Regions from separate parts of the Homo sapiens genome. Here region 1 is linked to region 2. Evidence: fine-mapped expression QTL. A gene starts in region 2. The other region holds a variant in brackets. All regions are shown on one strand. Distances are from middle to middle.

Region 1 (5,378 bases), 31 kb after region 2:
ATAGATACTTTGTTTTTTTCTATACATATATACCGGTGATACCGTTTAATTTATGAATTAGACACAGTAAGAGAGTAACAGTTTTCTCTTTGGGCATATATTTGGTGTTTTTTGGAGACAGAGTCTCCCTCTATCCCCCAGGCTGGAGTACAGTGGCACAATCTCGGCCCACTGGAGCCTCTGCCTTCCAGGTTCAAGTGATTCTCCTGCTTCAGCCTCCCTAGTAGCTGGGATTACAGGCACTGCCACCACCACACACCAAATAATTTTTTGTATTTTTAGTAGAGGCGGGGTTTCACCATGTTGGCTGGGCTGGTCTTGAACTCTTGACCTTAGGTGATCCGCCTGCCTCAGCCTCCCAAAGTGCTGGGATTACAGGCATGAGCCACCGTGCCCAGCCTCTTTCTACATATATTTGGCTTCTCTTTGGCATATCCCAATTGCCAGCATCAGTACCCTTGTGCTTTGGGGCCATTATTAAGTAAAATAAGGGTTACTTGAACACAAACGCTGAGATTGTGTGACAGTTGATCTGATAACCGAGATGGCTACAGGCTGGACACAGGGGTGATTCATGTCTGGGTGGGACAGAGCGGGACAGCATGAGATTTCATCATGCTTCTCAGAACTATTGTCCTGCACTTCAGATATGATCAAGCTGCAGTTTAAAATTTATGAATTGTTTATTTCTGGAATTTTCCTTTTAATATTTTCAGACTACAGTTTGCCTCAGTTAACTGGAATCACAGAAAGTGAAACTGTGGATAAGAAAGACTACTGTATACAAAAAAATGTACCATGTTACCTTTCAAAAAATCTGAAAAATTCTGAATTTTCAAATACATCTGGCCTCAAGAGTTTTGGAAGAGGGATTGTATCTGCATTTCCTTATCTAGAAGAATCCAGACTTGATAAGTGCTCATGATAGGTTTTGTCTTTGTTTCTCACCTTCTTTATCATTTCCACAGCTGCTGTTGGCTCCAACCCCGTACATCATTGGGGTTCCTGCCAGCTTCTTCCTCTACAAACTGGACTTCAAAATGCCTGATGATGTATGGCTAGTGGATCTGGACAGCAATAGGGTGAGGTTCTTGGCTGAGGCATTGTAGAGTCTAGAGGAGGATTGCATTCTAGACCCAGTCCTGAGATATCTGTTTCTAGATTCCTTTCAGGAACGTCCTAAGTTGTTGGATAATTTCTATTGCGAGACTTACTGAAACAAGTTTTTTTAAATGCTCCTTTTACCTTATTAGCCAAATAAACCCTTGGTTAGGTCTCAGAGAATTACAGGATTTATTTTTGCCAGAATTAAGTGACCCCCCACCATATCCTCCAAGAGCAGTCAGACAGTTGTGATCTGAGGGCCATTACATGTGGTATAGATCATCTCTTAATGGTTTCCCTGGGGTATAGTTTCCAGTAAGAAACTGTCTTTCAGTGCAGGCTTAATTAATTATATGACCATTCTGCAATGTGAATACATTCAGACTTTGGTGGGAAGCCCTTATGTGTGCTCATTGTAAAACTTAAAAAAAATAAAAATAAGCGTAAATAAAATAAGTGAAAAGAAAAACCATAATCCTTTTATCTAGAGATAATAACCAATAACATTAAGTTATATTTCATTTCAGATGCATATGTATGTCATATATGTGTGTACATATATCTTACTGTGCAGTTATATAATGTATATTCGTTTATATAATAATAATGTATATACGTCCTCTTATTTTTATTTATGTAAGTGAAATTCCTGAGCAATAAACTCTAAGGTCACGTCTTTTATCATTTCTCTGGTGCAGGTGATTGCCCCCACCAATGCAGAAGTGCTGCCTATCCTGCCAGAACCAGAATCACTAGAGCTGAAAAAGCATTTAAAGCAGGTAGGTGAAGAACGAAGGAAAGAAAGGGGAGTATTAGATGCTGTGGGATTCCTATAAGAAGACAGCTATTCTCAGAGCCAATTTCCTATCAAACTTCAAGTGGAGTAGTTTTCTTCACCCTGGATGGGCTTAAGAAAACGCGTATCCCATTTCTGGGTGGCAGAGTGAATTTCTGTTTTTGATTCCAATTCATTGTATGCTTTACCATCTTCTAATGCTTATGATGCTGTATAAAATAGCCCTTCACTCTCTGTTTCTTGTATGTGTGCCACTCTCTATGGCTTCAGAACATTTTCTCAGTCTTTTTTTTTTTTTTTTTTTGAGATGTGGAGTCTTGCTCTGTCCCCTAGGCTGGAGTGCAGTGGCGCGATCTCGGCTCACTGCAAGCTCTGCCTTCTGAGTTCACGCCATTCTTCTGCCTCTCCAGGAGCTGGGACTATAGGCGCACGCCGCCACACCCGGCTAATTTTTTTGTATTTTTGGTAGAGACGGGGTTTTGCCATGTTAGCCAGGATGGCCTCTATCTCCTGACCTCATGATCCGCCTGCCTCAGCCTCCCGAAGTGCTGGGATTACAGGCGTGAGCCACTGCGCCCGGCCGATTTTCTCAGTCTTGTTAGGTGGAAGTTAGTAGTGTGGACCGTCTGGCTGCTTTTATATTATCTTCTAGAGTTGATCCTGAGGGTTCCTTTCTTCAAAAATTCCTTTATTTGGCTGGGCACGGTGCCTCATGCCTGTAATCCCAGCACTTTGGGAGGCCGAGGCAGGTGAATCACGAGGTCAGGAGTTGAAGACCAGCCTGGCCATTATGTTGAAACCCTGTCTCTACTAAAAATACAAAAATTAGCCGGGCATGGTGGTGGACGCCCGTAGTCCAGCTACTCAGGAGGCTGAGGTAGAAGAATCACTTGAACCCAGGAGGCAGAGGTTGCAGTGAGCCAAGATTGCGCCATTGCACTCCTGCCTGGGCCACAGAGTGAGACTCAGTCTCAAACAAACAAAAAAATTCCTTTCTTTGAGTAATTCCTCACATCCATTTTTTATTGATTGATTTTCTTCTTCCTCTGCATGCTGAACACAGTACCTGAAGGTAACACATGACAAAGCTTCATTCCCTTCCTCTGCCTTATGTGTTGTACAGGAACACCAGTAGATAACACTGTGTTTATTTTTAGGAATCCCTGCTCTCATTTGAAGGGCCTTTAGAAATCTTTTTCTGTGTTGTCTGAAGTACTTAGTAGTATCTCTAGATGCTATGTTTGGGTTTAAATGGGTCATTGTGTTTCATCCCTCTCACCTCAGTTGCTTCATCACTGCTAATATAATATGATACCTTGTTACTGCAGAGTCTAGTGGGAATTTTAAGTTCAGAAAGTTCTCTAGCTGCCTTCACTTGCTGTGTTTTCAGTCTTGATGATTGCTTTAGTATGACTAATGAGATGGAGAGGTTAATAAATGGAATTATATTTAATTAAATTAATTAATTAATT[T/A]ATTTATTTATTTTGAGATGGAGTCCCACTCTGTCACCCAGGCTGGAGTGCAGTGGCACAATCTTGGCTCACTGCATTCTCTGCCTCCCAAGTTCAAGCGAATCTCTTGCCTCAGCCTCCTGAGTAGCTGGGATTCCAGGCACACACCACTGTGCCCAGCTAATTTGTTTGTATTTTTAGTAGAGCTGGGGTTTCATCATGTTGGCCAGGCTGGTCTCAAACTCCTAACTTCAGGTGATCCACTTGCCTTGGCCTCCCAAAGTATTGGGATTACAGGCATGAGCCACCGTGCCCAGCCAGAATTATATTTTAAATGTTTGTAGGAGCTAAGATCCTTGGACTCATTGATCCTGTGTTCTAACTCCTGCTATTCAAAGTGTGGTTTGTGAACCAGCAACATTAGCATCACTCGGGCTTGTTAAAGTGCAGGATCACTCCAGGCATATTGAATCGGGATCTGCATTTTAACAGCCTCCCCTGGTGATTCTTCTCCTCACTCACATTTGAGAAGCACTGCTGCTCTCGACCAGTGGTCTTCACGCTGCCCCATTGAGCCTCTGAGGGGCCGATTTAGCTTGGGAGCCCTGAGCATTTGAGGCTCTGCTTCCTGTGTCCTTCAGAGCAGCTCTGTTTTCAAATTTCCATTCTATATAATTTCACATAGATTCCAATTTTAAAAAACATTTAATGACTATAATAATTTTGCAAACGACTGTCGTGGACTTCAGATAAGATCAAGTTGCCTTGAGCTAGGTTGTCTTAAGATGGAGAGCTACATATTTCAAACTGTTTTCTAAAGGCTAGAATATTGGGATTTTTATTTCAAAGATGAAAGGTCTGAAATGGGTTGGCCGTGATTTGCAAATTAGCACCGTTCTTTGTTGCAGAACTTTTTGACCAGAGAATACGAGGTAGCAGACCTTAGGAAGGCCTTTTCCTTGGAGTTAAGATTGGCTAGCTGCCCAGGGACGTTCCTTGTGTAAGGAATTTTCTTGTTGTTCCACAGGCCTTGGCCAGCATGAGTCTCAACACCCAGCCCATCCTCAATCTGGAGAAATTTCATGAGGGCCAGGAGATCCCCCTTCTCTTGGGAAGGCCTTCTAATGACCTGCAGTCCACACCGTCCACTGAATTCAACCCACTCATCTATGGCAATGATGTGGATTCTGTGGATGTTGCAACCAGGTAAGACCAAGCCGACTGTATAATCACAAGTTCTTAAATTAATTTCTTTGCTCTCTAAGGGACCTTGGGGCAGACTATTTCTCTGAACCAGGGTTCCTTTTTTTTTTGAGATAGATTCTCACTCTTGTTGGAGTGCAATGGCATAATCTCAGCTCACTGCAACTTCCACCTCCCGGGTTCAAGTGATTCTCCTGCCTCAGCTTCCTGAGTGGCTGGGATTACAGGCGCCTGCCACCACGCCTGGCTAATTTTTACATTTTTAGTAGAGACGGGGTTTCACCATGTTGGCCAGGCTGGTCTGGAACTCCTGACCTCAGTTGATCCACCCGCCTTGTCCTCCCAAAGTGCTGGGATTACAGCCGTGAGCCACCGCACCCAGCCCAGGGTTTCTTTATGTATAAAATATATACTATATTTGGTTGTTATTTTCCACCTTAGTAAAATCAAAGTGAAGAAATAGTAAACCACGTGCTCAGGATGAAGAGGGGGCTGATGATTCTTTAAGATATCTCTCCCCTTGATGTTGGAAGCCTGTTAAGTGATGGCTTTGGGAGGTGTTCTAAGACTTTGGATCATGGGAATCCTTACCCTATGGGTCTCAGATTATCTCATCATCTGCTTCCCCAGGGTTGCCATGGTACGGTTCTTCAATTCCGCCAACGTGCTGCAGGGATTTCAGATGCACACGCGTACCCTGCGCCTCTTTCCTCGGCCTGTGGTAGCTTTTCAAGCTGGCTCCTTTCTAGCCTCACGTCCCCGGCAGACTCCTTTTGCCGAGAAATTGGCCAGGACTCAGGCTGTGGAGTACTTTGGGGAATGGA
Region 2 (5,378 bases):
AGGGTCCTTGGGGCAGAAACTGGCTCCAGTGACGACCCTTAGAGACCAGGGAGAAAAAAATAAGATAAAGGGCTGGGCCTGGTGGCTCACACCTATAATCCTAGCACTTTGGGAGGCCAATGCAGGAGGATCGCTTGAGGCCAGGAGCTCGAGACCAGCCTGGGCAACATAGTGAGACCCTGTCTCTACAAAAAAAAATTTTTTAATTACCCAAGTGTGGCGGGCACTTGTAGTCCCAGCTACTTGGGATGCTGAGGCAGGAGGATCACTTGAGCCCAGGAGTTTGAGGCTGCAGTGAGCTATGACTGAGGCATGTGCTACAGTTTGGGTGACAGAGTGAGACCCCTTTAAAATATATGTATATATTTTGGGCCGGGCACGGTGGCTCATGCCTGTAATCCCAGCACTTTAGGAGGCCGAGGCAGGCGGATCAGCTGAGGTCAGGAGTTCAAGACCAGCCTGGCCAACATGATGAAATCCTGTCTCTACTAAAAATACAAAAATTAGCCAGGCATGGTGGCACACACCTGTAATCCCAGCTACTTGGGAGGCTGAGACAGGAGAATCGCTTGAACCTAGGAGGTGGAGGTTGCAGTGAGCCAAGACCATGTCACTGCACTCCAGCCTGAGCAACACAGCAAGACTCTGTCTCAAAAAAAAAAATTTTTTTTGAAGAGCTTATTCAGAGATAGTGGCTCATGAAAAGGGAGGAGGAAACTGGGGAAGGACAAGCTCAGGACAGAGCTGGGCCTTAAGAGAACAATAACAATGTCTATGGATTCTTGATACGGCTGAGGCTGACAGTGGTAATCAGAGGAACAGCTTCCCCCATTCCTGGGGTGGGGCGAAGACTCAAGGAGCAGGCACACTCACCAGTCCTCCCTGATGTGCCCTAGGAATATAGCACGACCTGGCGCAGCAGACAGGGCTCAAAAACCTCATCTTGATCAAGAAAAGACAAGCCCTCTCTACGCATGTCTTCCCCGCTGTCTTTCATCTTGGCCCTGTCTGGTTTATCATTAGATACCCCCACAACATTCTAAGCTCCATGAAGACAGAGATCATATCTGTATGGTGCACAACTGAATGCAAAGTGCTAGCACAGTCCTTGGCCTTTAATAGGTACTCAATGTCTTGGATGGAAAGCCTGTGATTTCACAGTCAGAAACCACTTTGCCAGGCCCGCCCTTAAGTCCGAATTTGGATGCTTAATCAAATTTGCCTCATCCCAGCCAAGCAGGGGCAACTCAGCTCCTAGGGCTTTGTTCCAGACAGCTCTCAGATGTCTTTTCCTGTAGTTGTGACCAAAAATACAAGAAGGAGGCCAAAGTGCCCAGCCTCAGCCTTAGGCTCCCTGAGGGCAAAAGATGAGGGCAGCATACCTTGTTCCCCTTGCCTCTGGAGCTCCCAACCTTACCTCTTGCCGGTGATAAGAGGTGTTTAGGAAGCCGTGATAGCGCTGCCGCAGGGCCTGGCCCAGTTCCCAGTGCTGTAGCATCCCCTCCTGTGGGCAAACCCAAGGGTTAAGAGGGTCTAGAGGGAAGGGGTGGCTTCAAGCCCCATGGGGTTTAGGCCCTGTTGCTTTCCAGGTTCACGCTTTGCTGGAGTCAATTAATCTGATCCCAGAAGTCTTTCATTAAGTGGCCAGTCATGCACAGCAATATCATGGGCACAGAGATTAAGGTTATGAAATCTGGTCAAAGTCAGCACCCATATGGGAAAAGGCAGTTTAGTAGGACCCCAAGTTTTGTAGACTGCTCTAGACGTCGCTCATTCTGCAGCTCATCCTGAGGAAAGGCTGGCTTCTGACCCACCTTGGTTAACTGACCAAACCCCTGGGGCCATTCTTCTTCCTGATAGGGGTCCTTGGGATATGTCTTCACTGGTGAACGGTCTCCATGGCGGTACAGCTGAGAGAATAAAATGGTTTGCCTATAGGTCAGAAGCATCCCCTTGATAGGGACCCAGAGCCTACCTTTTGCCCCATGTTAGGGAAGGAAGTCTCATTCCCTCTGGGAAGCCTACTGGCTGCAAAAGACCCCAGCTAGGAGTCAGTCACTTCTTCCAGATTCCAGAGATTCTAACTTAGCTAAGCAATGCTACTGGAGACCATAGGCAAAGCCAAGGTACAGGTAGGAAGGGAAAAGAGAAGTGAAAGCAACGTATGTGGTGGGGACAACTGGGGAAAAAAGATAACCAAAGGCTTCTTTAGGGATGAGTCTTAACCATTCAACCACTTCCCTGTCTCAAGGCAGACTCACCCCGACGTATTCGGTCATCCTGACTCCCATAAGCCAGGGCTCCAGGTCAATCCTGAATCCAGCCTCCCAACTACCCAGGCCAGTCGTCCCCTCCTAAACCAGCTGTTCCTTCCCGAGATCCTCGACCTCCACCAGCTGGCCTTTGCCCTTTTAGCTTCAGGGAAGTCTTTGGTGAGCCCATCTCTCATTACCAAGGTAACGAAGCGCAGACTCCGGGCCCGGGTGGGCGGCATCACCACCAGGTTCACGCCGAGAAGGAGCTGGAGGAGAGCCGCCCGGCTCCAGCCGGACCGCTTGCCCGCCATCACCGTTGTAATCTATGCAGCAAACAAGCTGGAACCCGCTGGGTGGCACCTGCAAGCAGCCGCCCGGACGCACCCGTAAGGACACACGCCGGAAGTGCGTTCGCCGCCATCTTACTTAGGGACCTGCTGGGGTGCGGGGAAAAGGCGCAGTCTCGGTGGGATTGCGTGCAGGAGGGTCGTGGTCTGGCTGTGGCGGAGGAGCATAAGAAGGTAACGCGACCTGGCGCGGCAGACAGGGCTCGAAGACCTCATCTTGATTAAGAAGGCCACAAATTCGCGTTTGCCTCTGCTCGGAGAAATCCCTTACCAAGGTGGCACTTGCAGTGGGCGGGACCATGTCTGGAGAACCAGCGTCCCCTCCAGGCTTGACCCCATAGCTAGATCGGGTGCAGAATTGAGGCGAGGGATGGGAAAGTAGAGGTCGCTTCTCTCCACGCCCCTGCCTTTGTGGGGAGATTGAGCCCTGGCCCTGTTCTCCAGGAGATGTTTTGCTTGGGGTGCAGGACACAGTATGTAAACAACCCTTTGGACTCCGTGTGTCCTTGAGGTTGCCCCAGTCTGGCCTACCGTTCCTGCCCTGCACAAAGCTTCAGTAGCCCTCTCACTTTCCCTTCCAGTCCTTTCCCTGTCCTCCCTCCCCTCCACTTCCAAGTTTTAGTTAATTAGAGTCAAGACGTCATGTCATGCCTCTTCCCAAAGGAGTTGGGTTGCACAGGATGTTCAGACTTTACAAACCCAAAGCACTGAATCCCTGGGGGAGGAATTTCAGACCAGTGGGGAGGTATTTTGAGGTAAGGGACAGGCGCATATCATAAAGTGGGAGTAGGTGGGGTTTCCACAGAATCAATGGCCCTCTTGGCATTGACCATTAGGATTCAGGTGCAGCCAGTTTGGCCTCAGGACTTTGTGACTCCTGTGACGGTTGCAGGTCAGATCATAGGTCCTGGGGATGCTTTGATTCAGATCTGCCTACTGGAAGCAAATCTCCTCAGATCTTTGGGAAACAAAACTGATCAGGCTTGGCCTGGGCGCCGTGGCTCACCTGTAATACCAGCACTTTGAGAGGCCGAAGCAGGCAGATCACCTGAGGTCAGGAGTTCGAGACCAGCCTGGCCAACGTGGCGAAACCCCGTCTCTACTAAAAATACAAAAAAAAAAAAATTAGCCGGGTGCAGTGGCGTGCTCCTGTAATCCCAGCTACTCTGGAGGCTGAGGCAGGAGAATCGCTTGAACTCGGAAAGCGGAGGTTGCAGTGAGCTGAGATCACGCCACTGCACTCCAGCCTGCGCGACAGAGTGAGACTGTCTCAAAACAACAACAACAAAAACCTGATTAGGCTTGGTGTGGTGGCTCACGTTTCTAATCCCAGCACTTTGGGAGGCCAGGGTGGGAAGATTGCTTGAGCCCAGGAGTTGGAGACCAGCCTGAGCAGCTTAGGAAGATCTCCTCTCTACAAAAAAAAGTTTAAAAATTAGCTGGGTGTGGTGGCACACACCTGTGGTCCTAGCTCCTCGGGAGGCTGAGGTGGGAGGATCACCTTCAGCCCAGGAGGTTGAGGCTGCAGTGAGCCATGATGGTGCAACTGCACTCCAGTCTAGATGACAGAGCAAGACTGTGTCTCAAAAAGAAGAAAAGAAAAAAAAAGATCAGGATTATCTGTCTTTATTTTGTCCTAGGACTCCAGATTCAATTATTTATATATACTTCAGGATTTAAACTTTGCTTCCAGAGTTGTCATGGAGGAGGCCAAGAAGCAAATAGAGTAAGAGCCAAAGCCTGGGTAGCCAAACAGTTCTTAACCTTCTTATTTAATCACAAGCCCCTTTATGAATCACATGAAAATTTTGCACCTCTCCTCCAGAAAAATGTTCACACATATAAACACACACATGGAATTTTGCATATAATCCCAAATGGTTCACAAAGACCATTTATTACAGGTTTCATAAATCAGCATCTCTGAATACCTGATTTAACCTAGTCCTCTTACTTTACAGCTTAGGAAACAAACCTAAAGAGAGGAAGTGACTTGCCCAAATTCACAGTTTGGGCATGGGCACAGTTTGAGAATGGATTAAAAGTCAAGTTTTGGCCGGGTGCGTGCTCACGCCTGTAATCCCGGCACTTTGGGAGGCCGAGGCGGGTGGATCACGAGGTCAGGAGATCAAGACCATCCTGGCTAACATGGTGAAACCCCATCTCTACTAAAAATACAAAAAGTTAGCCGGGTGTGGTGGCAGGTGCCGGTAGTCCCAGCTACTCAGGAGGCTGAGGCAGGAGAATGTCGTGAACCCAGCAGGCGGAGCTTGCAGTGAGCGGAGATCGTGCCACTGCACCCCAGCCTGGGCGACAGAGCAAGACTCCGTCTCAAAAAAAAAAAGTCAGGTTTTGTGATTTTCAGTTAAATAGTCTATAATGGGCTGCTTCTTGCAGGCTACTCAAACTGCATTACTAAACTGTAATTGGTGATCCCGAAATCCTTTCAATAAAGAGGTATCTGTCAAAGGAAACCTTTTCAAATTAGTTGGACTAAACGGGACCTAGGCCGGACATGGCTCACACCTGTAATCCCAGCACTTTGGGAGGACGAGGCGGGTGGATCACCTGAGGTCAGCAGTTCAAGACCAGCCTGGCCACCATGGTGAAACCCCATCTCTACTAAAAATACAAAAATTAGCCAGTCGTGGTGGCGTGTGCCTGTAATCCCAGCTACCGGGGAGGCTGAGACAGGAGAATCACTTGAACCCAGGATACAGAGGCTGCCGTGAGCCGAGATTGTGCCACTTCACTCCAGCCTGGGCAACAGAGCGAG

The links. PIP is the estimated chance that this variant, and not a neighbour inherited with it, causes the effect.
Region 1: its variant is fine-mapped to the expression of ACP2 in whole blood (TOPMed, PIP above 0.99).

Annotation. Positions count from the first base shown.
Region 1 is chr11:47,277,197-47,282,574 of GRCh38, forward strand. It overlaps MADD (MAP kinase activating death domain), which reads left to right. Exons shown (of 37, transcript NM_001376571.1): 6 at 969-1,082; 7 at 1,803-1,883; 8 at 4,379-4,557; 9 at 5,185-5,378. Among named protein-coding and RNA genes, the nearest start is that of MADD-AS1, 7.8 kb to the left of the region's middle. The variant T/A (reference allele first, on the strand shown) is at 3,373.
Region 2 is chr11:47,246,224-47,251,601 of GRCh38, forward strand. It overlaps ACP2 (acid phosphatase 2, lysosomal), which reads right to left and starts at 2,591. Exons shown (of 11, transcript NM_001610.4): 1 at 2,453-2,591; 2 at 1,815-1,910; 3 at 1,418-1,504. The coding sequence starts at 2,566. It also overlaps a transcript of NR1H3 not described here. RefSeq lists enhancers at 2,057-2,146, 2,277-2,786 and a silencer at 2,867-3,034.